Linked DNA regions of Homo sapiens: region 2 is linked to region 1. The links come from fine-mapping of genetic effects on gene expression. A gene starts in region 1. The other region holds a variant in brackets. All regions are shown on one strand. Distances are between the middles of the regions.

What was found. PIP is the estimated chance that this variant, and not a neighbour inherited with it, causes the effect.
Region 2: its variant is fine-mapped to the expression of SDAD1 in whole blood (TOPMed, PIP above 0.99).

What each region holds. Positions count from the first base shown.
Region 1 is chr4:75,983,041-75,999,376 of GRCh38, forward strand. SDAD1 (SDA1 domain containing 1) reads right to left here and starts at 7,905. Exons shown (of 22, transcript NM_018115.4): 1 at 7,712-7,905. The coding sequence starts at 7,801. SDAD1-AS1 (SDAD1 antisense RNA 1) reads left to right here. Exons shown (of 3, transcript NR_125906.1): 2 at 13,066-13,704.
Region 2 is chr4:75,947,256-75,963,591 of GRCh38, forward strand. It overlaps SDAD1 (SDA1 domain containing 1), which reads right to left. Exons shown (of 22, transcript NM_018115.4): 15 at 13,956-14,053; 16 at 13,773-13,849; 17 at 12,811-12,937; 18 at 10,592-10,686; 19 at 10,263-10,453; 20 at 10,070-10,154; 21 at 8,720-8,881; 22 at 2,660-3,542. The coding sequence ends at 3,495. Among named protein-coding and RNA genes, the nearest start is that of NAAA, 14 kb to the left of the region's middle. The variant G/A (reference allele first, on the strand shown) is at 8,994.

The sequences.
Region 1 (16,336 bases):
GTGTTTGGTTTTCTGTCCTTGTGATAGTTTTCTGAAAATGATGGTTTCCAGCTTCATCCATGTCCCTGCAAGGACATGAACTCATCCTTTTTTATGGCTGCATAGTATTCCATGGTATATATGTGCCATATTTTCTTTATCTAGTCTATCATTGATGGGCATTTGGGTTGGTTCAAAGTCTTTGCTATTGTGAATAGTGCTGCAATAAACATATGTGTACATGTGTATTTACAGTAGAATGATTTATAATCCTTTGGGTATATACCCAGTAATGGGATGGCTGGGTCAAATGGTATTTCTGGTTCTAGATCCTTGAGGAATTGCCACACTGTCTTCCACAATGGTTAAACTAATTTACACTCCCACCAACAGTGTAAAAGAGTTCCTATTTCTCCACATCCTCTCCAGCATCTGCTGTTTCCTGACTTTTTAATGATTGCCATTCTAACTGGCGTGAGATGGTATCTCATTGTAGTTTTGATTTGCATTTCTCTAATGACCAGTGCTGATGAGCTTTTTTTCACTGTTTGTTGGCCGCATAAATGTCTTCTTTTGAGAAATGTCTGTTCATATCCTTTGCCCACTTTTTGATGGGGTTTTTTTTTTCTTGTAAATTTGTTTAAGTTCCTTGTAGATTCTGGCTATTAGCCCTTTGTCAGATGGATAGATTGCAAAAATTTTCTCCCATTCTGTAGGTTGCTTATTCACTCTGATAATAGTTTCTTTTGCTGTGCAGAAGCTCTTTAGTTTAATTAGATCCCATTTGTCAATTTTGGCTTTTGTTGCCATTGCTTTTGGTGTTTTAGTCATTAAGTCTTGCCCGGGCCTATGTCCTGAATGGTATTGCCTAGGTTTTCTTCTAGGGTTTTTATGGTTTTAGGACTCTTGTTTAAGTCTTTAATCCATCTTGATTTAATTTTTGTACAAGGTGTAAGGAAGGGGTCCAGTTTCAGCTTTCTGCATATGGCTAGCCAGTTTTCCCAACACGTTTTATTAAATAGGGAATCCTTTCCCCATTGCTTGTTTTTGTCAGGTTTGTCAAAGATCAGGTGGTTGTAGATGTGTGGCGTTATTTCTGAAGCCTCTGTTCTATTCTATTGGTCTATGTATCTGTTTTGGTACCTTAAAAAAAAAAAAAAAAGACTAGGTCTCCCTCTGTCACCCAAGCTGGACTGCAGTGGCACAATCATAGCTCACTGCCACCTCAAACTCCTGGGCTCAAGAGGTCCTCCTGCCTCAGCCTCCTAAGTAGCTGGGACCACAGACGTTCACCACCATACCCAGCTGATTTTTCATTTTTATTTTTTGTAGAGACGGGATCTCTTTATGTTGCCCAGGCTGGACTCAAACGCCTGGCCTCAAGTGATCCTCTCACCCTGGCCTCCCAAAGTGCTGGGATTACAGGTGTGAGCCATAGCACCTGGCTCCCCTCTTTTTTTACCTCTTCTTTTAAGTGTCAGTAACTTTATGCTAGAGCTCTAGGCAGGATGTGTTAACAGCCAATAGCAGTAGACACATGGAAATAATAATAGCTTCCACTTATTCAGCACTTGTTATGTACTAAGCTCCTTATGCACATCAACTCACTTACTTATGTTTAGTTGTAACAGCCACCTGATAATCAAATGTTGGAATTCACCAGGCCTCAATTCCACAGTTCCATGCCTTACAGCTAACTACTCTCCACCCATACATAGTCTATGTCTTTAAATTATGTGACATACACACACACACACAAACACACACACACACACACACACACACACACACACTCTTTCTCATCATCCCTACCTGGTCCAGTGAACTCCCAATTCACATATCCAGTCACCTGTCTGACATCTCTGTTTAGGTGTCTAAACAGACATCATAAACTTAGCATGGTCAAAAAACACAACTTGATTTCCTCAACAAAACTGCCAGGCTTTTTCTAAGAACAGAAGTCAAGTCCCTACATGCTTCAGATAGAACCACTTCTCTCTTGACCCGACACCTCCACTGAATAGGAGTGAGGAGAGGGCTACACAACTCTTTATGCTACTGACAAAATCCTCACCCCATTTCTTCCCCCACCCCACCCATGGCCCAGCTAACACTATTTACCCGCCTTGAGATGATCAGGACTAATCTCATTACACCCTTTATGTGCATCAGTCACCACAAGAGCCCAGTATTCCCTGGCCATCCCTCATCCTCCTCACTGTAATCCTCATTCCACTACAATCCTGAAACTCTTGGGGTGGGGCCAAGGCATCTAAATCAAACAGCCCAGTCATTCAGATGCTCTATGGGAACAGTGGTTTTCTCCTGACACACTGCTACGTCGTTTCTTTCTCCCAGCATGGATGAGTCAGTAGGCATCCTCCTTTTTCATCAATGCTACTTCCAGAGCACTCATATCCCTCCAGATTAATATCCTTTCTCCTCAACTGTCCTCACCCCCAGCTTTGAATCTTATGCCACAAGACCCACTATTCCTCCTTGTAGTCATCTAAAGACTAGAGTTATCCTCACATTCCTTCAACATTTCAGCTCTTTGCTCACTGTCTTCTCACCCTCTATCTCAATTCCTGTTATAATACTTGGTGATTTCGTATCCACATGGAGGGTCTTCCCAATACTCTGGCCCCTCATTACCCTGACTTCTCCTCCTCTAATCATCTTGAACTTACTGTATCTTAGCACTCACTTCCATGGTCACACCCTAAATGTTGTCATTACCAATAACTATATTACAACTCCATAATCTCAACTAGAGGTATATTCCTCTCCAACCACATCTCTTATTTTCCAAACTCCAACGATCCTTCAATCTCATCAGAATCCACAGTCCACTAAGCCTACTACCTTTCCACTGCACCTAAGTAACCCCCACGCCAACTTCCCTTCTCATCCAGCTTCAATTCCATGATCAATCATTATAATCACCTCCATGCGTATACTTCAACTCACTTGCCCATTTCTCTTATCATTATACCCATTTGGTAAAATGCCCACCCTGTGCTTTCCTTCTCTACAGCTATACTCCCAGAGCTGAACATGGTTGGAGAAAATCGGCTAATTGGTGTCATTTTATTTTTTTCATTTTAATTTTTTTTAGAGCCAAGGTCCTGCTCTGTCGCCCAGGTTTCCGTGCAGTGGTGCTATCATGGCTCACTGCAGCATCAAACTCCTGGGTTTAATCAATCCAACTGCCCTAGCCTCCCAATTAGCTGGGACTATAGGCACAAATTCATAACTACAAACCTCAATTAAGCCCTGCGTGTACTCCAGCAATCTCATTACATTTCTCTAGTCCCTTCACTTTCCCACTTTTCTGGACAACCATTTCATACTTTGCAATCTGTCCTCCAACCTCACTTTTTCCCTGTCCCCATTCTCAGCAGATGATCTTATCTCCAATTTCACTAGGAATATAAGCAATCTGAGGATAATTTCCATTTAACCACCTATCTTCTCCTGTGCCCATATACTTTACCTTCTCTCCTACTACAAAAGCTATCAGGCCACCATCTAAGGCTAGCCCCTCCAGTTATGCATTAGATTCTAAACCCTGTAATGTCACTCAATCAAGGTCTTTGCTTCACTAGTCCCCACCTCCCATTTCCTGCCTCAACAGGTTCTGCCCCATCAGTATATAGACATGCTGTTCTTTCTGCCATCTTAAAAACAAAACAAAACAAAACAAAACAAAAAACACCTTTCTTGGTTGGGCATGGTGGCTCATGCCTGTAATTCCAGCACTTTGGGAGGCTGAGGCAGAAAGATTGCATGGTTTCAGCTTGGAGACCAGCCTGGGCAACTAGCAAGACCTCATCTCTACAAAAAAATCAACTGGGAATGGTGGTTGCACACTTGTGGTCCCAGCTACCCTGGAGGCTGAGGCGGGAGGATTGCTTGAGCCCAGGAGGTTGAGGCTGCAGTGAGCCGTGATCACACCACTGAACTCTGGCCTGGGCAACAGAGCAAGACTGTGTCTTAAAAAAAAAAATCCTTTCTTGATTCCACTTTACTCTGTACCTTCTACTCTATTTCTCTCTTCAGAAAAAGTCCTTTAAAGAGTTGTCCATATGTTACCTAATTGCCCTCCTTTTTCAAAAAATCCTTTAAATTGAGATATAATTCATATACCATAAAATTTACCCTTTGAAAGTATACAATTCGGTTCTTCAGTATATTCACCAAGTTGTACAACCATAGGTTTTTCATCATCACCAAAAGAAACCCCAATCCATTAGCAGTTATTTCCTATACCCCTTACCCTCAGCTCTGGCAAACACTAGTCTACTTTCCATCCATATAGATGCACCTATTCTGGACATATTCTATTCATATACATTTCATATACATAGAATCATACTCCAATTGTTTTTAAACCTTCTGTAATCAGATTTTTGCACCCATTCCTCTTCCCAAACTGCTCAATGAATCAGGGTAGCCAATGACATCCATGTCGCTAATTTTTTTTTGTTTTGTTTTTCTGAGATGGAGTTTCATCTTGTTGCCCAGGCTAGGGTGCAGTGGCGCGATCTCGGCTCACTGCAACCTCCGCCTCCCAGGTTCAAGCAATTCTCCTGCCTCAGCCTCTGGAGTAGCTGGGATCACAGGTGCCCGCCACCACACCTGGCTAATTTTTGTATTTTTAGTAGAGATGGGGTTTCACCATGTTGGTCAGGCTGGTCTTGAACTCCTGACCTCAGGTGATTCACCCACCTTGGCCTCCCAAAGTGCTGAGACTACAGGTGTGAGCCACCGTGCCCGACCCCATGTTGCTAAATTTAATGGTGGTCAACTTTTGGTATTCATCTTATTTGACTCATCAGCATCTGATGTGCTTGGGTTCTCCCTCCCTTGGGAACATCTTCTATACTTGGCTTCCAGAACACCTCCTGGTTTTCCTCGAAACTTCACTGGCTGCTTTCTCAGTCCCTTTTTCCAGTTACTTAGAAACTCACTGGCCTTTAAATGTTGGGAATCCCCAGGGCTTTCTCTACCTACCCAATCCAGGATCTAATCACCCTTCTTACTACTTCCTGTTACCATCCTAGCACCACTCAACCCAGCATCATCTCTTGCTGTGGATAATTCCAATAGCTTCTTATGTGGTGTCTCTGCTTCTATCTTTGCCCTCCTACATACAGTCTATCCTCAAGTAACGGTGATCTTGTTCTCATATAGGGTGGTTCATGTATTCTTCTGCTCAAAACCCTGTAAAGGCTTCCATCTCATTGGGAGGTAGAATCCCAAATTCACCCCCTTTCCTCATTCCCTATTTGGAGCCACACTGGCCTTTATGTTCCTGAAATCTACCAGGCATACCTACCCCAAGGTCTTTATACCTTCTGTTCCTTCTGCCTAGATCATTCTTCCTAAACATATGCACAGCTCTCCCTCATGTCCTTCAGGTTTTCACTCAAAGATTACTATCTCAAGAAGACCTTCCCTAACTATCCAATTTAAAACTGCAATACCCATCTCACCCCCAACATACATAAGTACTTTCCTATTGTCTTTTTTTCACAGCACTTTTCATTATTTAACATACTATATTATTTGTTACTGTATATCACCCCCTACTAGAATGTCATTTAATGAGCATAGAATTTTTATCGGTACAGCTCAATATTATGTAGTCCCAGGGCCCAGCATTGTGCCTTACATATAGCAGGTAATCAACAGTATTTGTCAAATGAACGAACTTCAGGAAATGGCACTATCATCTACCTAGACATATAAATAAAAAACCTGGGTGATCCTTCATTCCTTCTTTTTTCCTTATCCCCCACATCCACTCCACCAGAAATCCCAAGGCTCTACTAGCTCTACCTCCACGTAGAACAGCACGAATCTTTGCCCATAATTCCAATGACACCACAATCCCTTGCTTGGTTATTCTGAGATCCATTATATTAGTTACCCTGCTTCCAGTGTTGCTCCTCTACAAGCCATTCCACATGTAACTTCCAGAGTAAATTCTTAAAAAAAATATGTCAGATCATGTCACTCTCCTGCTTAAAACTCTTCAATCACTCCCCGAGGCACTCAGAGTGAAATCTAAACTCGTTAACAGGGCCTAAGAGGCTCTGAATAAGCTGACCCCTGCCTGCATTTCCTACATCATCTTCCACTGCCCTCTTCTATGCTGACTACACTTTAGCTACACTGGCTTCTTCTCTGCTTTTTTTCCACCAGTAGCTTCTGCACTTTCTATTCCTTGTACCTAAAATGATGTTTACCTGCCTGGCTCAATATCATCATTGCAGAGCCACCTTCCCTGTTTACGGGGTCTAAATCAGAAGCCTCCAATTCTAACCTATTCCCATCCAGTTTTATTTTCTTCATAATCTCTACCATAATAAGTCTACACTCACTTGAATGTAAGTCCAAGAGAAGAATGCTTTCTTATCTGTCTTATTCATTACTGTACCCCAACGCCTACCTAGAATAACAACACACAGTAGTTATATGTGATTTTGCATATATACTTAAGTGAATTAAAGAAGTAGTTATTACCCCCTTCTTACATATTAAAATACCCACATAGGCTCAGCGATTAACCTGCTTCGGTTACACAACTGGTTAACAACAGTCAGCAGCAGGAGTTATCTAACGGAATTATATAGACTCTCAACTTACCACTTTCTTTGCGAATGGCTATACAATGCTTTAAGCATCTCAAAGCCTTGCCTATGTTACTTAACTTCTTGTACTTGTTTCCTACTCTTTATTTCCACTACCTTGATCCTTGGAGAGGCTTTCTCTACTGGTGACCTAAGCCACTGAGATTGCCATGTGTTAAAAAGCACTCATAAAATACATATATGTGAAAATTTAGGGGAGGAGGGAAGTGAGAAGGGCAATGAAAAAATAAGTAATTGTGTTAGCCACTGAACAAATCACAATCTGGTAGAAGCACAAACATGTAATTGCAGCAAATGCCTAGCAGAGATACCTGTTTAATGCCCGTCTGATAAATGAGTGTCTGAAGGAAGCACCTGTCAGATTAATATATCAAAAACCACTTTCGTTTTGTCGGTACTTGGTTCAAACACCCCTAATGTTCACAACTTACATGAGGTCAGTACACAAAGCCCATCACAATGAGGGCCTAATTTTTCAACCTAATCTTTTCCCGAAGCAAATTCTGACATCCGAGTCATGCCAGTCTCCGGTAAGTTTGAATCCTGGCTTAACTAAATATACTAAGCTCCCGAGTCTGTCCGTTGTGCTTGAGAAACCCCCCCCCCCCCTTTCCTGGCACAGTCCAGGGTACACAGCCTGCTCTCAGAAACGGACGTCAATCGAAAGCATTCTAACATACGATTCATCAAAGGTTACCGACTAATTCAAGTTTGGGATTTCTGAAAAGAGGCTGAGAAATCCGCGTGGAAGTTGGTGGTTGGGTGCGGCCCATTTCTCTCTCCACTTCCGTGCGGACGAAGAAAAATATCTTAAAACAAAATGAGGTTTTAAAGGTGTTTCAGCGGCAGCAGGGCAGGTAGAAAATCCAAAGGGGCAACAGATTTTCAAGAGGTGGGGAACGAACCCTAAGGCATGTCCCGTCCCCAACCCCTTCTCTCCTCTGGAGGGACCCCTGAACCTAACAGAAGAATAGGCGGCGAGCCTGGATCCCAGCCCCACTCCATGCTTTCCCGCACCGGCGTCTCAACCATCCACTATCCGGCCTCTAGCGTCTGCCGCGCCGCACTCCCACCTCCTCGATGTAGGCCGGCGGGTCTCGCTTGATTAGATTCTGTAACTGCGGCAGGTTGCTGGGAAGCTTGTTGTTGTTTCTGTTGGACATTTTGGCTGCAGACAGACTTCGCGGCGAGCAGTTTTAAAAAAACTCAGACGGCCGGCACCCCGCAATCCCTGCCAGCTGCAGCTTGGACTCGTGTTTCCGGGTATGACCGGAAATAGCGCATGGGACTCTAGGCAGGCGACACCTTAGCGGTTCCTAAAGCGAGCTATGCTACGGAAGCCTCAGAGTGTCAAAATTACTCTCGTTGCCAAAATACTCTGTGGTGTATTGGAGAGCCAGCCACCGCCGACCCGCCCCTCGCCCTTGGGCATATGCTACTACTTAATATTGCCTTGCGTTTCTGAAAGGATCTGAAATGTAAATTTTTTCACGTGTGTTAGCATGTATCGTCATTCCGACACCCATATGAAGCACATAAATGAGGATTAATCGTTTATTTTTAATCCCGCAGTCTAAAATTAGAAACTGACGCCTGTAATCCCAGCACTTTGGGAGGCCAAGGCGGGCCTGAGGTCGGGAGTTCGAGACCGGCCTGATCCACATGGAGAAACCCCGTCTCTACTAAAATTACAAAATTAGTCGAGCGTGGTGGCGCATGCCTGTAATCCCAGCTACTAGGGAGGCTGAGGCAGGAGAATCGCTTGAACACAGGAGGCGGAGATTGCGGTAAGCCGAGATTGCACCATTTCACTCCAGCCTGGGCAACAAGAGCGAAACTCCGTATAAAAAACAAAACAAAACAAAACAAAACTGAAAAGAACCGTGGCGCTAGATAACACTATTCCCTCTTAGGAGGAAAAAAGAGCAACGAGGGTCATATAAGTTAATGTGTATGATTTTAGATATGTTTTTATTTTGGTTTTGGTTGTTTCAACTTAGCGTGACCCATACAAGGGAAAAGAGGGCTGGATAAAATGTGATCATGTTGACCATTAATAAATGCAATTAATCGTTAAAATTCAACCATCGTTATAAGCTTTGTAAGCACTCCTCAGTCAGAGTTTTTAATTCAGATCCTGGTAATTCGAAGAGGAGAATACATTTCTACAATCTCAAGGTGTAAAAAATCAATAAGGGTTGAATGAATGAGGTAGGGTGTTGTGAATTAGAGAGAGAGAAAAAAAAACCTAATTACCCACCCTGTGCCAGGCACTATTCCAAGCACTTGTATTAACTTATTTAATCCTCAGAACAACCCTCTAAAATAGGTGCTATTGTTATCTACATTTTACAGAAGAGGAAACAAGCTCAGGGAAGTTGACTGCCTCAATTCATAGCCTGTGAGGAAGATGAGATTTCAATCTAGACAGTCTTGATTGTAACTACATGAGAAAAAACATAGCCTAACAGCTGGTAGCTGGTTGCTGGTCTGGCAAAATAGCCAGACAATAGGGTTCTGCTTAACCAAAGCAATTTTATAGAACGCCAACCTCATCTGTGACGATGATAAAATGAGCCCCAAACAAAACAACTCTGTAATCACACCTGCACACAAAATAAAGAATGCTTCACAAACCATGTTATTCAGCTGCTTTTGGAGAATGACTTATTTATTAATTATCAAATCAGTTACCTGTGAAGTTAAGAAATAAATGTCAGCAATAAATCTTTTTTAAAAAGCATAGATTTAAATTAAAATTTTTTGGCTAGGTTGTTTTAGTGAGGGCAAAAAAAGTATTCTCAAAACAAAATCTGGCTAAGTGTGGTAGCTCAAGCCTGTAATCCCAGAACTTTGGGAAGCCAAGGTGGGAGAACCACTTGAGCTGGGTAGTTCAAGACTAGCCTGGGCAATATAGTGAGACCCCATCTCTACCAAAAAGTTGAAAAATCAGCCAGGCATGGTGGCACAGGCTTGTGGTCCAAGCTACTGAGGAGGCTGAAGCAAAAGGGTTGCTTGAGCCCAGGAGGTTAAGGTTGCAGTGAAGCACTGCACACCAGCCTGGGCAATACAGTGAGACCCTGTCTCAAAAAAAAAAAAAAAAGAAAAAAGACTGCGTACAGGTACTTGAAAATGTCTGGTGTATTGAAACAATAGCCATAAGTTTGGTGTGACTAAAGGCTGGGAGGGCAGGGTGCAGCAGGGAAAGAGCTGAGAAGGTTATATTGTCCTGATATGAAAGGCTTTAATTGCTATTCTAAGGAGGGCATATAGGTCAGTTCATTTTACCTCCAGCAGCATGGAAGGCAGGATTTGTTTTTGATAAATGAGAACTCTAAGACTAAGAGTGGCTAACTGAATATATATTTTTCAGATGTTAAATAATTTGGGTATCTAAGGCCAACATCTCTGCTTTCATGTGAAATTCCATCCTTTATTTTTAAAATTATAATGTATTTATTTTATAGCTTTATTAAGATATAATTGATGTACAACAAACTACCCAGTGAACAATTTGATAAGTTTTGACATATGTATGTACCCATAAAACCATCATCACAATCAAAATAATGACTATATCCATCATCCCCAAACGTTCCTTGTGCCTCATCATCCCCAGACAAACACACATCTGCTTTCTGTCACCAAAGATATGTCTGTGTTTGCTGGAATTGTATACAAATGGAATCATACAGTACCTATTATTTGAGGTCAAGGTTCTTTCACTTAGCATAATTATTTTGAAATGTATCCATGGTGTTGTATGTATCAATAGTTCACTCCTTTTATTCCTGAGTAGTATTCCATCATATAGACATATTGCAATTTGTTTATCCATTCACTAGTTGCTGGATATTTGGGTTGTTTCCAGTTTTGGCTGTGAACATTCATGTTCAAGTCTCTTTTTAAGAGATAGGGTGTTGCTCTGTCACCAAGGGTGGAGTGCAGTGGCATGATCATAGCTCACTGCAGCCTTGAACTCCTAAACTCAGCCTCCCTAGTAGCTGGGACTACAGGTGGTGTGCCACCATGCCCAGCTAATTTAAAAAAATATATTTTTGGCTGGGCTCAGTGGCTCACGCCTGTAATCCCAGCACTTTGGGAGGCCGAGGCGGCGGGTCACGAGGTCAGGAGATCGAGATCATCCTGGCCAACATGGTGAAACTCCGTCTCTGCTAAAAAATACAAAAAATTAGCCGGGCGTGGTGGCGCGCACCTGTAGTCCCAGCTACTCAGGAGGCTGAGGCAGGGGAGTCGGTTGAACCCAGGAGGTGGAGGTTGCAGTGAGCCAAGATCGCACCACTGCACTCCAACCTTGGTGACAGAGCAAGACTCCGTCTCAAAAAAAAAAAAAAAAAAAAAAAAAAATATATATATATATATAAAAGACAGGGTCTCACTATGTTGTCCAGGCTGGTCTTGAATTCCTGGCCTCAAGTGATCCTCCCGCCTTGGCCTCTCAAAGTGTTGGGATTACAGGCTTGAGCCACCATGTCGTGCCATCAAGTCTCTATGTGGACATAAATATCTTGGTAAATGTCTAGGAATAGAATAACTGGATCAATATGATAGGTTTACGTGTAACTTTTAAGAAACTGCCGATCAATCTTTTGCTTCTACCATTCCACTGAAACTGTTTTTTATCAAGATCACCAATCACATCAATTTTCATTATTTAACTTAACCTGCAGCATTGGACACAGTTGGTCTCTCCCTTCTCCTGGAAACATACTTGGTAACTGACCTTTAACTGGTCTCTCTGCATTTTCCCTTACCCTCTTACACTGTATTTCCATGTAGTGGTCAGAGAGAGCCTTAAATGGATCAGGTTATTCTTCCAACTTCCCTTCTCACTCAGAGTAAAAGCTGAAGTTCTTCAGTGGCATAGAAGGCTGTTATGAACTGCATGATTGTGTCCCGCCAAATTCATATGTTGAAACCCTAACCCCCAATGGGATGGTATTAGGAGGTAATTAGTTCATGAAGGTGGAGTCCTCATGATGAGATTATCATCCTTGTAAGAAGAGACACAAGAAAGCTTACCTCCTTTCTCTCTGATCTCTGCCATGTGAGGATACGAGAAAACATCTGTTTGCAAATCAAGAAGAGTGCCTCATCAAATACTAAGATACTAGATCTGCTGGCACCTAGATTTTGGACTTGCCAGCCTCCAGAACTGTGAGGAATAAATGTTTGTTGTTGAAGTCATCGAGTCTGTGGTAATTTGTTATAGCAGCCCAAAACCTTATATGATCTGACCCCACACTATCTCACTGGGCTCCTCTCCCATCACTCTCCCCTTTGCTTACTCTGCGCCCCTTCAACCCTGCAATGATCCCCTAGCTGCCTTAAATGTGTCAAACTTCAGGCCTTCACACTTGCTGTTTCCTCTGATTCAAGTGCCACAAGCCTTGCTCTCTCATTGTCAAGTCTCTGCTCAAATGACAACTTATTAGAGATGTCTTCCCTGACCTCACAGCCCTCTGCTCACCCCACACTCCCTTCCCCTGCTTCATTTTCTCCAAAGCCCTTATCCGTCTCTGATATATCGTATACTTACTAGTTTAGTTGTTTATTGCCTGTCTTTATGCACTAGAATATGAGCTTAATGAAGACTGTTTTGTTCATTGTCTATCCTGTACACTTGGAGCAATGCATGCATATAATAGGTAATCAGTTAATATTTGTTGAATGAATGAATGAATGCATGGATAATCTCTAATGACTTCCAATTCTTCAACTGTGTGATTTATTAAAGCAGGAACTTAAAATATCTTGGACAAACGCAGATAAAATTTACCTGAAAATCAGTAAGTGACTAACGTGTGAATCCTTGTTATTACCTTTCTCATTAGAAACCAATGATATTGACTGTGTTCGGAAAAGCCAGTCATGTCTTCATCCTTTTCTGATTAAAATATATTGTTTTATTATTATTATTATTTGAGACAGGGTCTTGCTGTGTCACTCAGGCTGGAGTTCAGTGGCACAATCATGGCTTACTGTAACCTCAGCCTCCTGGGTTCAAACTATCCTCCTGCTTCAGTCTCCCAAGTGGCTGGGACTATAGGTGTGCACCACCATGCCTGGTTAATTTTTAAATTTTTTTGTAGAAATGAGGGACCGGGTGGGTGGGTCTGGCTATGTTGCCTGGGCTGGTCTCAAACTTCTGGGCTCAAGTGATCCTCCCGCCTCAGCCTCTCAAAATGTTGGGATTACAGGTGGGAGCTGCGATGTTTGGCCTATTGTTTAAAAAAACTGTTAGATTAGCCACTAGAGGGAGCTCATGCTTTTCTTGTTAACGGGAAAATTACATGATTTGACATGCCCACAAACTAAACAGAAATCTCATAAAGAATTATAGTCCTTAAAGCTAATTTAATTTTTTATTGCATTTTCTTTCTTCTTTCTTTCTTTCTTTTTTTAGACGGAGTCTCACTCTGTTGCCACGCTGGAATGCAGTGGCACGATCTCGGCTCACTGCAACCTCCGACTCTCTGGTTCAAGCGATTCTCCTGCCTCAGCCTCCTGAATAGCTAGGATTACAGGCATGCGCCACCACGCCCAGCTAATTTTTCTAGTTTTAGTAGAGACGGGGTTTCACCATGTTGGCCAGGATGGTCTCGATCTCCTGACCTCGTGATCCGTCCGCCTTGGCCTCCCCAAGTGCTGAGATTACAGGCGTGAGCCACCGCACCCGGCCTTTTATTGTACTTTCTTCCTCCTCTCTCTCTTTTACAGCTTTGTTATGAGTTTTCCCCACAAGCCCATGTATTTCTTTGCTCCTGTGGGCAGCGAAAACTTTTGGCCTTGCCTCTGGACAAATCTATCAGGGCTGATAGATTTTGTCATTGGTACAGGCCCTCGCTTCTCATCCACCTCCACTGCCTCTCTTTTTGCTGATCCAAGGTCCCCAACATTCTCCCTAGCTGGCAGAGATCATCCCTGTTTCCCCATTATTCAGAGAAATTTAGCTTAGTTTTGCTTTAACTTCCATACCATCAAAAGTCCTAGGCCCATCTCTCCCTAATCAAAGGCTCCATACAAAAGAGACATCTGCCCTGAGGTAAATTCTGAGGCTTTCAGTATTGCAGAAGTGATTGCTGGCATTTCTTTTTCTAAGCAACACATTTTTTCCCTCTCTGTTATATAGTTTATTTTGACATGTATCCTCTTACCTAATAGATTGTGATTTTTAGTTCTTCATTCCAGAGGAAATGCAGGTTGTCTACTCCAATGGTTAAAGAAAGCTGGTGGTAGATGGCTGTACCTACTTGGTCCTATACTCTACCAGAAGGCAGAGGCCAAGATTTAGTTTTCTGGAGATGGAGATACCAGCAAGTCCTTCCTTCTTTTTTTCTTTGAGCAAAACAAATTCTTTATTAAAACAGTTGACTTGAAACAGTATATTATATCTAAAGGAAGAGTTTTTTTTTAATCTGTATAGCAGACTTTTAAAGAAAGCAACTAGTTATGTATAACTTGACACCTTTCCCTCTAATCTTTTGTCAGTTTGCCCCAGTTCATAATCTTATTAATGGACTTAGATTAGACTGTTCCTTTGTGATTTATTCATCTCCTTAAAATGTAGGGTCCAAAGTTGAAAGTTCCCTCCTGAGAACTTTAAACCAATGTGGGTATCAAAATGCCTCAAGTGACTTCTTGGCTTGTGATGACTTGGGAGCTAATTCCACTCCCTATTAAGAAGTGTTGCCTGTTTTTCTTTCTCATTTAATTTCATCTCCTGTCTATATAGGCCAAAAACGAGACAGTACCTAAAGTATCTGTGATTGTAGTCTCTCTTTATCTTCCTTTCCAATAAGAAGGCAACTTTCCAGTTTCCCCGTAAGGATAAAACAACTACAGATAGCTTCCTCCCAGTTAACTGACCTAGAGATCGCTAGCATTTATTTATTTATTTATTTATTTAATTTATTTTGAGACAGAGTCTCACTCTGTTGCCCAGGCTGGAGAGCAGTGGCACGATCTCAGCTCACTGCAAACTCCGCCTCCTGGGTTCAAACGATTCTTGTGCCTCAGCCTCTCAAGTAGTGGAGATTACTGGCGTGTGCCACCACGCCCAGCTAATTTTTGTATTTTGAGTAGAGACAGGGTTTCACTATGTTGGCCAGGCTGGTCTCAAACTCCTGACCCCAAGTGATCCAGCCACCTTGGCTGGGATTACAGGCGTGAGCCATGGTACCTGGCCACTAGCATTTAAATTCATAAGAATAGTTTACAGATTAAATACGTCTGAGTCTTTTATCCATTGCTCTAATGTATAAAATTTGTTCAGGCACAGACTGCTTTCTAGTATAGCAAAATAATTGAAGATTTTAATCATAGAACAATCCTTACTAGTTAAAGTCATTTTATGACAGGGCATGGAGGTGGATATCAGTGTGGCCAGGAGGATTCTGGGATGGAGTCATGGGAAAAGTGGGACTTGAATCATGTGTAGGTGGGAGTCAGATGAGTTGGAAAGTAGGACAGGGCGAATAAAAGAATGAGCAATGCGAGGGCAGAAATGAGCATGAGATGAACATGACAAGAGTAGTTGAAATTGATTTGGAAAAGGCCTAAAATGAAAATTTAGGGTGAAGTATATGTCAATCAACTAAAAAATACATATTAGGAGCTTCCTAAGTGCCAGGCACTGCTCTAGGCATGCAGTAGTGGGGAAGACAAAGTTTCCATGGTCGAGAAACCTAAATTTGTACATGTGGTAGGGTAGGAGGGAAGATATAAGTACACACATTATTTTAAAAGGTAATTGTAGATTGTGATGGTTTGATCATTATATCTAATCATGATAAAAGAAAATGAAACAGACTCTAGCCACCGGATTTTTAAAATTGTGTACCCTTCTAGTTAAAATTAGAACAGCCATCCCATCTATGTATGTTTTGTTCTCTTGTTAGTTTATATTAGCATTATTAATATGATCTTCCACAGGAATTTCTTAGCAGGAGTCTTTTAGAGCCACTTGCCCATTTTGTGAAGGTTGGCTTAGTGAGCACTCTGTCTTGTAATCCTTAAATCCCCTTAACTACATGCACATAAATGGAAACTCATGTTGCAATCTGCAGAAGGTGAATGACTGAGTGAGGGCACATGCCAGCCCCTCAGTTGTGGCGATGTCACCTTTTCCTCAGGAATTTCTTAGCAGGAGTCTTTTAGAGCCACTTGCCCATTTTGTGAAGGTTGGCTTAGTGAGCACTCTGTCTTGTAATCCTTAAATCCCCTTAACTACATGCACATAAATGGAAACTCATGTTGCAATCTGCAGAAGGTGAATGACTGAGTGAGGGCACATGCCAGCCCCTCAGTTGTGGCGATGTCACCTTTTCCTCAGGAAATTAGCACATGACAAATGATTTACAGTCAATTTTCAGTTTTTTCTTGTTTTTTAGACAAAAATGTAAGTTCTAAATATTTTCATCAACTCCATAAGGTACACACACTGGAACCACTACCACTACCAGAGAGAGAGTCTGGGGAAAGAGTGGTTATTTTACTAAGGGTCATAAGAGAAGGGGACTCTGTGAAGTGACATTTAAACTGAGACTTAAGTGATGAGGCAAGAACCGCCATGCAAAGAAGTGTGTGTAGGCCCAGGTGTTTCAGGGAAGCAGAGCCACTATGAGTATTATGAGGATAAAAATTTACTATAGGATTCAGATCTCACAGATGAGGAA
Region 2 (16,336 bases), 36 kb before region 1:
CAAGTGAAAATAGCAGACCAGGTTTGTGAATGTGCAGGCAATGACAACTACATCAAGACTGTTGTCTGGCTGCAAACATTTTTAAACATCTCAATTTCAGAGATTAAATGTGTAAAGAAATTGTCTTAAAACCACTTGATCATTTTATTTATTTAGAGACAGAGTCTCGCTCTGTCACCCAGGCTAAACTACAGAGGCTTGAACTTTACTCACTGCAGCCTTGACCTCCGGCACTCAAACGATCCTCCTGCTTCAGCCTCCTGAGTAGCTGGTATGGCAAGCATGCACCATCACACCTGGCTAATTTTTACAAGGTCTCACCATGTTGCCCAGGCTTCTTTATCATTTTATACTCTGCTTTTGAAAATAATAGTGGCCAGGTACAGTGGCTCACGCCTATAATCCCAGCACTTTGGGAGGCTGAGAAGGGTGGATCACTTGAGGTCAGGAGTTCGAGACCAGCTTGGCCAACATGGTGAAGCCCTGTCTCTACTAAAAATACAAAAATCAGCTGGGTGTGGTGGCGGGCACCTGTAGTCCCAGCTACTCAGGAGGCTGAGGCAGGAGAATTGCTTGAATCCAGGAGGCAGAGGTTGCAGTGAGCTGAGATTGTTCCAGTGCTCTCCAGCCTGGGCTGGAAAAGAACAAGGTGATCTGCCTGCCTTGGCAGAAAAGAACAGGAACAGCCTGTTTTGAAAAGAACAAAAGACATTGTAAACACTGGAAATGTTTACAATGGGAAATGCTTATTATAATAATGGCTGCATAATACTCTATCATGTGGATAAATGATAGTTTTATTCAACCATCTTCACACTGGGATTGGACTGACAAAACATGAAAGCAGAATCTACAGAAGGAAATAAGTTTACTACCTAAGAAATGGTCTATACAAATATAAGCTTATGCTATTTAAGGAGTACAAAATTAGCTGTGTTCTCTGCTTTTATTTGCATTTGTAAACACGTGCAGACCAAAGACTCTGCTAATATTGGAAAGGTTCTTTCTAGAGCCTTGACCTTGTAAGAGAAAAGGCTACAAGTCATTGTCCTATATTTTTATTCATATTTAAGATCTTTTAAAAAATCTCATAAAGTACATTTCAAAAGAACATAAGCAATTGATGAAAGACTGTCACTTGGTAGAACTATATTATCTATATATGGTTTTAAAATGTGTTATCTAAAATAGTTTAAAGAACAGAATATTCTGAGTAAACATTCTAGTTGAAATGGAGTTGCAATGCAAGTCTATACAGAGTAAATTTTCAAAGGATTAGACTTTGAAGAAATAACATTTATATTAACCATGGTCACTTGCTGAGATCATATAGCTAATATATCAGCATTCTGGATTTATATACCACTTTTATACATTATGAGCCTGGACAAAGTTAAGTTCATCCCTGAATGGCTTCATTCTCTATGTTGACAAAATTTGAGACTAAATAGCTCAAGTTCAGACACTGATGACTTCTTCAAAGTAGAATTCACCTTGCAAGCTCACCTACCCTCTAATGAAGCATTCACCCTTCTGAGAATCTCATCTTCAAATGGATAGCAAACAAAATATTCTCAAGAGAAGATTTGGAAAACAATAAAAGGAATCAGATAGAAATAAGATACTATGGGATTAAAGAAATAAAAGTTCAGAATATGCATTTATAAACCACATACTGTATCTTTCTGTCTTGCATGTAAGAAAGGCTAGTTAAGAAGAGGGTGAGGGCACAGTAGAAGAACAGAAGTCAGAACACAGAATGGACTTTGGTCTCTTGGTATCTGAGTGGGAAAATCTAGAGGAAGGATGAAACTTCCAGGCGCCATCACAATTCACACAATAAAGCTATAAAAACTTGTTGCTATTTTGAATTGAATTTTTTTCACTTTCTGGATCCAGACACAGGAGGAGACACCCAGTTCAAAAATGCGAAAAAAAAAAAAAAAAGGAGCAGTTTCCGGTCTAAAATATACAAATTTGCATCGAACACTTCCTGTAAAGCACTGTAGTTGCTGGGGCTTGACTCTGGTGACTTGACTAATCCCCCAACAGCAATCTGGGGCATTTTAGGGAAAGTCTCTAAGTCTCATTGAAATAAAACTGAAGTTGAATGTAGAAAGTGAACAGAAGAAACTGGAAAGGAAATAAGAACACTGGTTTTAGAAACTGCTTTCTAGGCCAGGCGCAGTGGCTCATGCCTGTAATCCCAGCACTCTGGGATCACCTCACGTCGGGAGAAAGCCCGTCTCTACTAAAACAAAAATACAAAATTAGCCAGGCGTGGTGGCGCATGCCTATAATCCCAGCTACTTGGGAGGCTGAGGCAGGAGAATCGCTTGAACCTGGGAGGCGGAGGTTGTGGTGAGCCAAGATCGTGCCATTGCACTCCAGCCTTGGCAACAAGAGTGAACTTCGTTTCAAAAAAAAAAAAAAACAAATAAATAAATAAAAAAGAAAATGCTTTCTGAGTGCAGAAAATTGCCCTTTACTCTAACTTGAGGTAACATCTACCACAACATTATCTGAGAAAGCTGAAGCAAAAGGCACCAAACTATTTCCAAATGCAAAAAATTGCATGCAAACAGACTGTCCCCTGAAATGGATGTAGCACGCCTGTGGAACGTAGAACACCACACACCACTCCACATACAAAGGTACGTATTTGGCATTAGAAACCTTTTATTGAGACAAGGTAAACAGTGGGCTGAAAATATTACAGGCTGAAGGAAGGCTGAGGAAACCAGTATGAAGGCAGCTCAAATGATGAACTAAATATATTCCAAAGGTACTATTTATACTTAAGGCAGTTTTAAAAGTGAGGTCTTAACCAAAAAGCCTTTACATGGCATTCAAAACAAAAACAAAAACAAAAAAAACACGGGGGGGGGGGGGTCACTTAAATCTCTTGGATTGACTAAAAGAGCTAAATTATGTACCCAAAATCTGTACAGCAGGGGCCTGTTTTCAGCAGGAAAGCCTATGTACAAGTAAGAACCTCTTACTCTTGTAACATTGTCCTGTTTTGTTTTGTCTTATAAGAATATATAACTCCTATCCTCACAGAGTTAGTCCATAAGGCCTCAGTGACCTCACAGAAATATGGAGTTAACCTCTACTACAGAACTATTTACACTGCACTGTAAATACACATATGTGTGTCCACCCTCACAGCTAAGCTGTCAATGCCTTGAGTGAAGGGGTTACAGCTCATTCGTTTTGCATCTACAGTGACAATGAATAGGCACTCAATACATACTTTTTTTTGCATGAATGATAAATGAAATGATTTTACATTACCACCACTATTTACATTAACATTCCTACCATTAGCCGTCTCCAAAATAAAAACACAAAATTGCTGCCACATGTTCAGCAGTTTTCACAATACAGTGTGTCTGGACTTTTTAATGTAAACAAACATGCTTGATTTACCAATTTTCAGAGCAAGGACACAAACTTAGCATTCTTCTAGGAATGGAAAACTTGCCAGGAAGTTACTTCATTCTTTTTCTCTTTTTCAAAAGTGCATCTCGTAGTGCCAACTGTAAGATAAAAAAGTATTGAAACATGATAACTCTTGGGTACCCTATTATACGAATTTGGTTACATGAAAGTTTACTAAAAAGGAATCACCAAGTCAATACACCATCCTGAAAAACTATAAATGATAAAATATTCCAAAACAGATCACATCTGAATCGAGGATGGGGCATATTACTGCTAGGAAATATGCAAAACTCTTGACTGCTGTTCCCAACTCATGGAGGCATAAGCTCAAAACAGGAGCAGCTATGGAATGCAGAGACTACTATTTATTATCCCTGTCTCCAGGGATAATAAATAATACTTATTTGGTCTATGTGGCTCTTAATATTTTGGAGTTGTGGATGGAATACATTGTCTAAATTAAAAGTAACAGGAAAACAGATTTTTCTTCATAATCAATCACCTTTCCCAATATCACATATATTCCACTAAATATGGCATGTATGGATCACTCAAAGATTTTATAATGGCATTCAGCACTTGTGTAGATTTATGATAACTCTATCAATATAAAATCTGAAACAAAGAAAAGTGATACCTTACTAAGAAAATGTTCTAAGTATATGCTAACACTAACCCTTTATAATGGCTCAAACATGAAGATATTAACTCAGAAATTGAAGCCCTGACAATTGTAGCTTATGGCAAAATATTTATTCTAGTTAATACAGGCTCTAATTTTTAACTTGTTTAATTATTTTGTGTTGGAAGTATGTAAAGTGAACATGAAGAATGAAAGCAGTGAATTGTATATCATAATGAGACTCAGTCTAGGCTTTCATCTCCTGGAGTTTGTCTCTAACCAGAGGCTGGGTTCTTCAAGATCCCCAGGGTAGAACTGGAAGGTGAAGAATTTAACATCTAGAGAAAAAGAAGACTGAAGGATCAGTGTCTGACGCAAACCTACAAAAGCCCTTATAAAGTTTTACATGTCAAAAGAAAGCAAACATAGTATTAAAGATGATCAAAAATAAACCAAAATTAAAGTTAACCAAGACCAATGTATACATCTTAAGTTTGTGATGGATACTATTCCATTAATTCCCAAGTACTATTCTTTGTCCTAGAAACTTTTAAAAATCTCTAGCTTTTATTTAATTTTTATTTTAAAATTCTAGCTTAAATTTTAACAAGATACACCTAAAACAGTTTCGGGGTAGAAGTTACCTGGCTCTACATACAAATGTTCAAACTTTTTGGATTTTATGATTTCCAGTTGACTCTTTGCCTTTAACTCACACCTGGGTCTTGGTATGTCTTTGCAGAAAAGCAGAAGAGCTGGGATACTTAAGGCAGAACAAAAATCTGTAAGTTCATTTCAACTTAATTTGGCTAAGGAGGTATTTTCCAGATTCATCTAATTCTATCTTATTTTCCTCATCTGCAAAATTGGTTTAATCACAGTAACTGCACATACTGTTGTATACTGATTAAACAAGTTAATAAATGGAAAGCCCTGGAATAGTGAAGTCTCATGCTAAGAACTAAATGTGTTAGCTAATGTTGGTTATGGGAATTTACTTCCACTCATTAAGCTTTGTAGCAAAGCACAGCCTACTCTCACACATATTTCAGTTCCTTCCCCTTCAAATGCCACCAATTAAAGAAAAGGAACAGGTATATCCCCCTTTTCTTCTTTTATCTTTCTACAGGCTTTACTGCAAGATCCTCCTCTCCTTCCCTATCGTATGCTTTACTTCCCTCTTCTAGTCTCATCCCAGTCACCTCTTCATATTCTAACAATTTACAGTAAGACCTCATGTACACTTTCAAGCCAGGTAAGATTCCTTTATTTAAGACACTGAAATATCACCAAAGGGTAGGGGGGTGTGTGAAGTGTGATGCTCCTTTCTCACAGGGCCCTTGGGGTCACAGGGCAGTTTTGGGGATGCTCTGTAACTGTTGTGTCCAATAGGGTAGCCACTAACTACATGTGACTACTGAGCATTTGAAATGTGGCTAGTCCAAATTGAGATGTGCTGCAGTGTTAACGACATGCTGATTTCAATTAGCTCAGAAACAAAAATGTACAATATTTCACTCATAATTTTTATATGTTGAACTACATGTTGAAACAATACTATTTTAGATATACTGGGTTAAATAAGATATATTGTTACAATTTCCTCTTTTTTTACTTGTTTATTTTTAAGTGATATATGTGGTTCATATTATATTTCTATTGAACAGTACTGGTCTAAAGGGGAGAACAGAGAAAATCAGGAACTTAAAAGTTTATGTTTATAATGAAGAGATCTTGAAGAAAATACAGGGCAAAGGGACACACATAGAAATTCTGATTAATATCAGGTTCCAAATGACAAGAAAATTGGAGAACAAGAAAAAACATTCTTGAACCAACAAGTGCATATGTCCAATGAAATCTTAATTTACTCTCAAAAAGATTCTTCAATCTTTGAGAGTTATTTTATGACTCGAGGTGCTTGAAAGGAACAAAGCTGGGCTTTCCCTTCATGCCAGAAAAGGCATGCTAAAAAACAAAGGAAGTAGGGGTGGGGGGAGCCCTAACTAAAATATAACAAGCTCACAGAAACCTTATAATGAAACAAGGCCTACCAACAGGGTAATTAATACTTCCTCAACCCTGAAATGTTAGTTAAGGGCCAGTGAAGGACAGACTAATGGATTTAAGTCAATCCTATTATAATTTTAGGAGAATGTGGCAAAATTTAGAGTACTTAAAATCCTAAGTGGCACCTTTCCTTTCACCTCAGTTTCAACAGCTTCTATTAAAAATGCCGTCATTATTTAAATGATGTTGTTGAACACAGTTTAGAACTAGAAAGAGTCAACAGGGAGAGCTAAATGGTACCTTAATTCAGTGAATACTGACTTGGAACCCACAGACACAGCACTGCCCTAGAGGGCTGGCCGTTACATTCAGTGCTGGCAGGCTGATCCTTGGCTAGCTATTTAGGAACACTGATTCACAATATGAGACTGTTTAACCCAGAGCTGATATCCTGGCAATTCTTCAGAATGATATTTAGATACACTGCTACACCACAAGGAGAGAAAGATACAAAAGCATAAACTTGTTTTATCACAATGAATAACTGAAATAAATGAGCTGCCTAAGTAGCATGGGATTACCATTCAAAGGCCATGAATGGATAAAATGTAATCCCAAAGCCTGTAAACATCAGGGCTTTCAAAAGGGCACATACAGGAAGGATCATGCCAACACACTATTTATTTTGCATTGCTTTTCTGAAACTGTTTCTGAGATATCACCACACAAAATTATTGGGTTTTGAAAAGTACCCACGCCTGGGGCCAGGCGCGGTAGTAGCTCACGCCTGTAATCCCAGCACTTTGGGAGACCGAGGCAGGCAGATCACGAGGTCAGGAGATCAAGACCATCCTGGCTAACACGGTGAAACTCCGTCTCTACTAAAAATACAAAAAAATTAGCCAGGCGTGGTGGCGGGCACCTGTAGTCCCAGCTACTTGGGAGGTGGAGGCAGGAGAATGCCGTGAACCCGGGAGGCAGAGCTTGCAGTGAGCTGAGATTGCGCCACTGCACTCCAGCCTGGGTGACAGAGCGAGACTCTGTCTCAAAAAAAAAAAAAAGAGAAAAGTACCCACACCTATAATCCTAGCGCTATGGGAGGCTGAGGTGGACAGACTGCTTGAGTCCAGCAGTTTGAAACCAGACTGGGCAACATGGCAAAACCCCATCTCTACAAAAAATACAAAAATTAGCCGGGTGTGGTGGCAGACGCCTGTAGTCCCAGCTACTTGGAGGGCTGAGGTGGGAGGATCACTTGTAGGGAGACCCCCTGAATCTATTGCTACAGAATAAAAGATGAAATGCTCCTCATTATTGTAAATACAAAATTGCATGCAAGATTGTGTAAAAACAATGCCAGGTTGGGCTGCCAGAATGAGCCAACAGCACATGATGTGCTTCCCCCTGCAGAGAGCCTATGAACGGACGTGCAGTCAGGGAGGTTTCACATCACCAAGATTCCTATCCCAGAAAAGCAGATGTTCATAGCTCTGGGAATGGAATGTGACCCTTGTGGAGAGCCTATAAATGGATGCATGAGGGGCGCCTGTCCATATGGATAAGATAGGGTTATAAACGCCCTTATCTTGCCACGGCTCTTGTAGGTCTCTTCAAGAGTAAGGCATACTACCTTCTGAGAATTTGTGGTCTAACCAGTTGTCTAGCTTCACGTCCTGTTTCTATTGATTGTTTACAACCAGTTTTTGCTGCAACTGTTACTGCTGATTAATATCTTGCTAAACGTAGGTTATGGATAGACTGTGTTTCTGTTTTAAGGCTCTGTTAGAAATTGCTGATGCACACACTATATTGTAAATTCTTATCTCTGTATACTGTACTTCTGCATACCAATGTTATGTTAAAGAATTACTTCATCCCCATGTGACCATCTCACCTCATAATCAAACGACCCTAAATCCCTCACTAACCTACGCCCACTCTCACTAAACTTAATAATAAATGGTGGTATATCCAGTGCATTGGCAGCATCGCAGGACCAGAAGGCGGTGACCCCCCTGGACCCAACTTTCACTATCTTGTGTGTGTCTTTTATTTCTCCACCTGCCTTTCCACTTGGGAACAAAGAAAGAGCCCCGTTGCATTGCGGGCTGCTGGCCAGATCCCGCAATAATCACTGGAGCCTGGGAGGTCGAGGCTGCAGTGAGCCATGAGGCTGCAGTGAGTTGTGACTGCACCACTGCACTCCAGCCTGGATAGCAGAGTGAGACCCTGTCTCAGAAAACCAGGCATAAAATTGGCACTAAAAAGTTATTCAATTAATTTTGATATTATATTTCACAGATCAAATGTCAGAGAATTTTAGCATGGGAAGGAACCTCATGGATGATCTAGCTTGCATTCCTTTACTTATACTGGAGGAAAATGGATTCCCCTCTGGTCCCACAGCTGAGTCTCAATCAAGTCAGGTCTGGGATTTACATACCCTGAATCCTTCTCACCTCTCCATGCTCTCCAGCAATGCTCCCATTAATGGGAACTCTCCAACAATGCTCTCCAACAATGCTCCCAAGACACACACAATAATGCCCAGTCTTCAGAAGGCGCAAGTCCGTCTCAAATGTAAAGCTGTCTTGGAATTACAGTGCTGTTCTTGCCACCCAAGCTTCAAGTGGAACTCACCTGTTTTTCTCGGAAGGAACGCTTATTTTTTGACCGGACATTCTGGCTATACCGCATCATCATAAAGTTCTTCTGTTTTTTCTTCTCTTTATTTGTCGAACTGGAAAATGGATTTGTTTTGGTTTTCTTCCTCACAAATTCTTTTCGGTCTGTCTTTCCAGCCTACCAGAACAAAAAGTTTGATATTTCTTCTTCAACAACATACTTTAGGAGTCATCTAATCAACATTAATGTCTCCTCTGTGTCAGAAGCTCTACTAGGTGCCAAGGGCACA[G/A]AATGGACAGGACACAGTCTTTGCTCCTTGGGACCAAGAAATGGCCATACAGTATTATAACAGAGCAAGGGGAGCTCGGTGGAAGAAAAGTCATAATTTAGCCTGGTGAGGTCAGGGGAACTTCCTAGAAAGGGAGACAGGTAGACTGTTTTTTTTTTGTTTTTTTTTTTTTTGCAGGATGAAGGCATTCATGGTAAGGGAAAGGAGGGGAAAGACAGAGCATTTCCGGAAGAAGGGACAGTGCACACAAAGGTGTGGAGGAGAAAGGACACATGGAAGACAGAGGATGAGGTGGAACTAGGAGGGGACAGTGTCTCAAACAAGTGGAGATACAGAAAATGATGTTGGAAATGTAGGCAGGACACAGACATGAGCAGCCACAGCACTAGCCACAGGCAGACTCCAACTGGCTCTGGCTTTTCACTGGTGACTGTAAACACATTCCTACTTTTCTCTTAGCTTTGATAAATATAGTGGCTTCCTGACAATACAGACATGTAATACTGCCTTCCTGTGCTCTCTACCTTGTTTTGAGTGGTGGTTACATGGCTATATACAGTTGTCAAAACTCATCTAACTGGCTGGGCGCAATGGCTCATGCCTATACTCCCAGCACTTTGGGAGGCTGAGGCGGGTGGATCGCATGAGGCCAGGAGTTTGAGACCAGCCTGGCCAACATGGCGAAACCTTGACTCTACTAAAAATACAAAAATTAGCTGGGCGTGGTAGCAGACACCTGTTACCCCAGCTACTTAGGAGGCTGAAGCAGGAGAATCGCTTGAACCTAGGAGGCAGAGGTTGCAGTGAGCTGAGATTGTGCCACTGCACTACAGCCTGGGTGACAGAGAGAGACTGTCGCAAAAAACAAACAAACAAACATACTAACAAAAGCAAACCCAAACAAAACCCCTCATCTAACTGAACATCTAATATCTGTGCATTTTAATTTCTGTGTTAATTATACCTTTATTTAAAACATTTTTAAAAATTGCCATTCTGTGGCTATACAAGTTCTGGCTTATGTTTCATTTTATTTGCTTTCTGTTTAAAAAACTAGGAATGATATGCTCACTCACCATTGCAGTTGCTAGTCTTGTCTCTTTGTCAGACTTTGGCTTTTTATGAAGGCGTTCAATGTCCCGAAGAGAAAGTAATTCACCCCTGGGGTGAGGGAAAAATAACACATGAAACAAGAATGGAATTCTGTTTCCTGATGCTTTCATTACCACATGAGCTGACTGAAGTACTAAAGTGGATGTGCCATTTTACCTGGGCTCTTCATCACTGTCTATTTCAATGTATTTCCTCTTCTGGGATTTCCCGGGGGCAGCATCAAGTTCTTTTCTCATTTGGGCCATGCGGATTTTCTGGAAGTCTTCCTGAGTTAAAACTCGGCTAGTGCTGATGGCTGCAGCTTTGGCCTTCCGCTCCTCCATGGGCATGCTGTTCAGCTTCTTGGACTTGAAACCACACAAGGGCTTAAATGGCTACCAGCTCAAGTGAGAGCTCAGCCATTTAAATTGTAGCCTCCCAACAAGGCCCAGAATAAATTACGTCTTAATAAACACCAGGTTATAAGATGAAATTTTCAGACTTACGATTTCTTGCTGTTCTTCATCGGAAGAGTGTTGCACATCAATCCATTCACCATCAGCATCCTCCTCCTCACTGAGACTGGTACTTTCCCATCCATCTGCGTGAAAAAAGCAAACCCACTACTGCCATTTTATGTTGCACATTCAACATAAAGTTGAGATGAAGCAAGCAACAGAAAAGTAATGAACCTTGAACAGATACATTATTAACCAAGAACTGAGCAATATTTATTGTTAAATAAACAATGTGCCTTTAGTTAATCTAAGGAATAGGAAATAGGCACTGATCAAGTATCTACCATGAGTCAAAACCTTACAATCACTCTCTCTAACCCTCATAACTCCAAAGAAAAGGAACAGATGCTCAGAGTTTAGTAATGTGCCCCAAGCCACACCGCTAAAAAGGCATCCTACACTGAAATCATGAAAATCATGTCTACCTTTAGGGTCATGTTCTTTCAACTAAACCAACTGTGTCCATCAAAACTGCACTTGTACATTTATCCTGGCCACGCAGCAGGCATCTAATTTGTCCTATGCGTGTTACCCACGTATGAGAATCTAGTTAGTCATTCAGACAACTGAGGTAGAATATTTGGGATGTTAAAGAATCCTGAAGACACCTCAATAAAAAGGTATCAGGCTTCTTAATGGAGCCACCACAGTTTAAATTTTCTAAATCACAGACACTGCAATCTTTCCATGACTCCCTATGATCTTTAAGAGAACGTGCCAGCTCTTTTGTCTGGCATATACATAACCAAGTATGAAAAGGTCACCAAACTCTATCTCAAGCCTCCTGTCTTTCTATGTTCCATCTTGTATCCTACATTCTAATAGTTAGTTCCCTAAATCCTTCAAGACTTTGCTCACACTTTGCCTGGAAAGTCTCTGCTATTCTAGCATTCCTTGCCAAATACCTGGCTCATCAGTCACCATCTCTCCAAAGCCCTTTAAAAAAAAAAAAAAAAAGGCCGGGTGCAGTGGCTCACGCCTGTAATCCCAGCCCTTTGGGAGGCTGAGGCGGGCGGATCACAAGGTCAGGAGATTGAGACCATCCTAGCTAAAACGGTGAAACCCCGTCTCTACTAAAAAATACAAAAAATTAGCTAGGTGTGGTGGCGGGCGCCTGTAGTCCCAGCTATTCGGGAGGCTGAGGTAGGAGAATGGCGTGAACCCAGGAGGTGGAGCTTGCCGTGAGCCGAGATCACGCCACTGTACTCCAGCCTGGGCGACACAGCAAGACTCTGTCTCAAAAAAAAAAAAAAAAAAAAAAAAAAAAAAACCTAAAAAAAAACTTCCGAGGTGGACCTGACTGCTCTCCTGCCCTTATGCCCCCACCCACTCCAATCATAAATCCTGTTAACACTTCATTCTTCAGCCCTTTGGAAGCCCTCTAGAGCAGAAATAATACCATTCATCTTTGCATTGGCAGTGGCTGGCTCACAACAAATGCTTAAGAGGGCTTTGATCAAATAGGCTGGGTGCACTGGCTCACGCCTGTAATCCCAGCACTTTGGGAGGCCAAAATGGGAGGATCACCTGAGGTTAGGGGTTCAAGACCAGCCTGGCCAACATGGTGAAACCCTATCTCTACTAAAAATAAAAAAATAAGTCAGGCATGGCTGCACACGCCTGTAATCCCAGCTACTCAAGATGCCGAGGCAGGAGGATCGCTTGAACCTGGGAGATGGAGGTTGCAGTGAGCTGAGATCGTACCACTGCACTCCAGCCTGGGCAAGAGCGAGACTCCAACGTGAGGAAAAAAAAAAAAGATTTGCTGAATAATGAATGAATGGACAGGAAGAATACACGACTCTGGAAATTAGAATGGAGTTCCTCGAGTATTTGCCCACAAATTCAACATGCATTCTCCTTCAACAAGGAGAATTTTGGGGGATTCCTCTAAGGGCTAACCCCCGTAATTTTTTCTAGGCAACAAACACAAGATCATTGTCTTTCTCAAGCACCAAACAGCATGCCCTTGGATGAGCGGCAGCCACCCCGAAGGTCATGAAAAGGCATTTCCTATGCTAGAACATAAGTTCCGCAAGAGGAGGAACCATGCTCAATTGATCCCCCATACTTCTAACAGTGCGTGGCACATAGTCATTGCTCAATAAATATCTGCTGAATGAATGTTCAAATAGTATACAATTTAAAGGTCTGCACAGATACTGCAGGAGTGTTTTGCCCAAAATAAGGGTGAAATAAAAATCAACCTTCATCATTTTCAGCATTCTCTTCTTTCTCAACTTCCAGAACTTCTGCTCCTGGAATGTAATCTTTAGCATCTAATTCTCCATATTCTTGTACTCTTGCTTCTATGGAGGCCTCTGTAGGCTTACCCTAAAGGAAAAGAAATTGTTTGTAATAAGTTGCTTAGATCATAAAACCTTAATCATGAAAGGTAGTCTCTGAAATTATGAATTTATTTTATTTATTTATTTGAAGACAGGGTCTTGCTCTGTTGCCCAGACTGGAGTGCAGTGGTACAATCTCAGCTCACTACAACCTCCGCCTCCTGGGCTCAAGGGATCCACCCACCTCAGCCTCCCTAGTAGTTGGGACTACAGGCACGCACCACCACACCCAGCTAACAAAATTATGAATTTAAAAGGGAGCACTATAAAAAATGCTGGTAACCAAATGACAGCAACAGTTTGCTTATGTCTCAGGTCAAAATAAATCCCCAGCCAGCAATCTGTCCACTATTTTCTTGTTGTGTTTTGATCTAGATCAAGACACTGGTAGTTATTAGAGAGTAACTGCTCTAATTTTTTAAGTCTTGAAAAACGTCATCTCTCTTTCTGTTACATACATGCATCCCTCCTCCCTTCCAACTTGAAAGAGGTAGTATCTGGCTGTGCAATAGCCTGTTCACAAAACTGGCATCAGCTACTGACTGATCTTTGAGATTCCGATCTGTTAATAACATTAAAAGCTTTCAAGCTGAAACAGCCTGATAGGTCTTCAAGACACAGTCATCATCAATGAATATGTGCCAACTATAAAATATTCAGGGCCATGGTATTTGATTCCAAGCTTAAAGAATACAACCGTGTGCATCATAACCATGTAATCATAACAGAAGCATCATAAGTACTAAAATCCTAATTGTAGGAAATTTCTCTCAGTTTGTGAGACCATAACCTTTAGACCAACATAAGTGTGCTTTACCTACCCGGAATTTCTTCTGCAGCATCTGAGGATTCAGTGTTCGGAAGAGGTGAATCAAAGTTCTAGCAGACATCATTACATCTGTAAAATAATACTTTTAATTAGAAATTCTGGCCCATAGAGTACAATGAGGTAAAAAGGAGTCACACTGTACTCTTTGGTGTGTAGAGAGTAACATGCAGCTTACTCTTATCCTTGTGTGTTTTATACTGAGCCAGGTCTTGGAGAAGTTCTTCAGTCATGGCCAGAGGACATCGAGCTGTTATCTCCTTTATAGCATTGATTCTAGAAAAAGAAAAACAAAGTTTAAAAGAGCCCGAATAGCAATTTTTTCATGATTCAACACAGGAAGACTTCCTAAAAAGATTAACTCAAAAGGAAAACACGTTGAGTTTTATATAGCTTAGGTCTCCAAAACTGCAGCATGTTAGAGAATGTCAGGTAGGCAGCCTTAGAGGGCTTTTATTCCAGTTACTGCCATTTCCTCTACTGGTGGAATAAGGAACAGTGTCCGGCACACTAAATCAGAGAAGCATTTACTTGCCAACTCTAAGAAGAGATGGGACTAGCTCAAATAAGAAAGGTTAAAGTCTTTAGGGCTATTATCCTGCAATATTTTCCAAGGAAAATAAAAAGCTGCTGTTCAGCATATCACTTACTTATCAGGACAGATTAGACAATCCTTAAACCAGTGATTATACTCATTAAGTGTTTTTTAATCAACCAAAAGGGCTACTAAATTGCCCTAGGAAAAAAGAGTGCTTCAATAATAAATCACTCGTTCCAGGGTTCTATGGTTTGAATGTTCCCTCTAAAACTCATGTCGAAACTTAATTGCCACTGTAATGGTTTAAAGAGGAGAGACTTTTTTTTCACTGTTTTATTATTATTATGCTTTAAGTTATAGGGTACATGTGCACAACGTGCAGGTTTGTTACATATGTATACATGTGTCATGTTGGTGTGCTGCACCCATTAACTCGTCATTAACATTGGGTATATCTCCTAATGCTATCCCTCCCCACTACCGCCACCCCACGACAGGCCCCGGTGTGTGATGTTCCCCATCCTGTGTCCAAGTGTTCTCATTGTTCAATTCCCACCTGTGAGTGAGAACATGTGGTGTTTGGTTTTCTGTCCTTGCGATAGTTTGCTAAGAATGATGGTTTCCAGCTTCATCCATGTCCCTGCAAAGGACATGAACTCATCCTTTTTTATGGCTGCATAGTATTCCATAGCGTATATGTGCCACATTTTCTTAATCCAGTCTATCATTGTTGGACATTTGGGTTGGTTCCAAGTCTTTGCTATTGTGAATAGTGCTGCAATAAACATATGTGTGCATGTGTCTTTACATCAGCATGATTTATAATCCTTCGGGTATATACCCAGTTATGGGATGGCTGGGTCAAATGGTATTTCTAGTTCTAGATCCTTGAGGAATAGCCACACTGTCTTCCACAATGGTTGAACTAGTTTACAGTCCCATCAACAGTGTAAAAGTGTTCCTATTTCTCCACATCCTCTCCAGCACCTATCGTTTCCTGACTTTTTAATGATCGCCATTCTAACTGGTATGAGATGGTATCTCATTGTGGTTTTGATTTGCATTTCTCTGATGGCCAGTGATGATAAGCATTTTTTAATGTGCCTTTAGGCTACATAAATGTCTTCTTTTGAGAAGCATCTGTTCATATCCTTTGCCCACTTGTTGATGGGGTTTTTTTCTTGTAAATTTGTTTAAGGTCTTTGTAGATTCTGGATATTAGCCCTTTGTCAGATGGGTAGATTGCAAAAATTTTCTCCCATTCTGTAGGTTGCCTGTTCACTCTGATGGTAGTTTCTTTTGCTGTGCAGAAGCTCTTTAGTTTAACTAGATCCCACCTGTCAATTTTGGCTTTTGTTGCCATTGCTTTTGGTGTTTTAGATATGAAGTCCTTGTCCATGCCTATGTCCTGAATGGTATTGCCTAGGTTTTCTTCTAGGGTTTTTATGGTTTTAGGCCTAACATTTAAGTCTTTAATCCATCTTGAATTAATTTTTGTATAAGGTGTCAGGAAGGGATCCAGTTTCAGCTTTCTGCATATGCTAGCCAGTTTTCCCAGCACCATTTATTAAATAGGGAATCCTTTCCCTATTTCTTGTTTTTGTCAGGTTTGTCAAAGAACAGATGGTTATAGATGTGTGGTATTATATCTGAGGGCTCTGTTCTGTTCCATTGGTCTCTATCTCTGTTTTGGTACCAGTACCATGCTGTTTTGGTTACTGTAGCCTTGTAGTATAGTTTGAAGTCAGGTAGCGTGACTCCAGCTTTGTTCTTTTGGCTTAGGATTGTCTTGGCAATGTGGGCTCTTTTTTGGTTCCATATGAACTTTAAAGTAGTTTTTTCCAATTCTGTGAAGAAAGCCACTGGTAGCTTGATGGGGATGGCATTGAATCTATAAATTACCTTGGGCAGTATGGCCATTTTCATGATATTGATTCTTCCTATCCATGAGCATGGAATGTTCTTCCATTTGTTGGTATCCTCTTTTATTTTGTTGAGCAGTGGTTTGTAGTTCAAAGAGG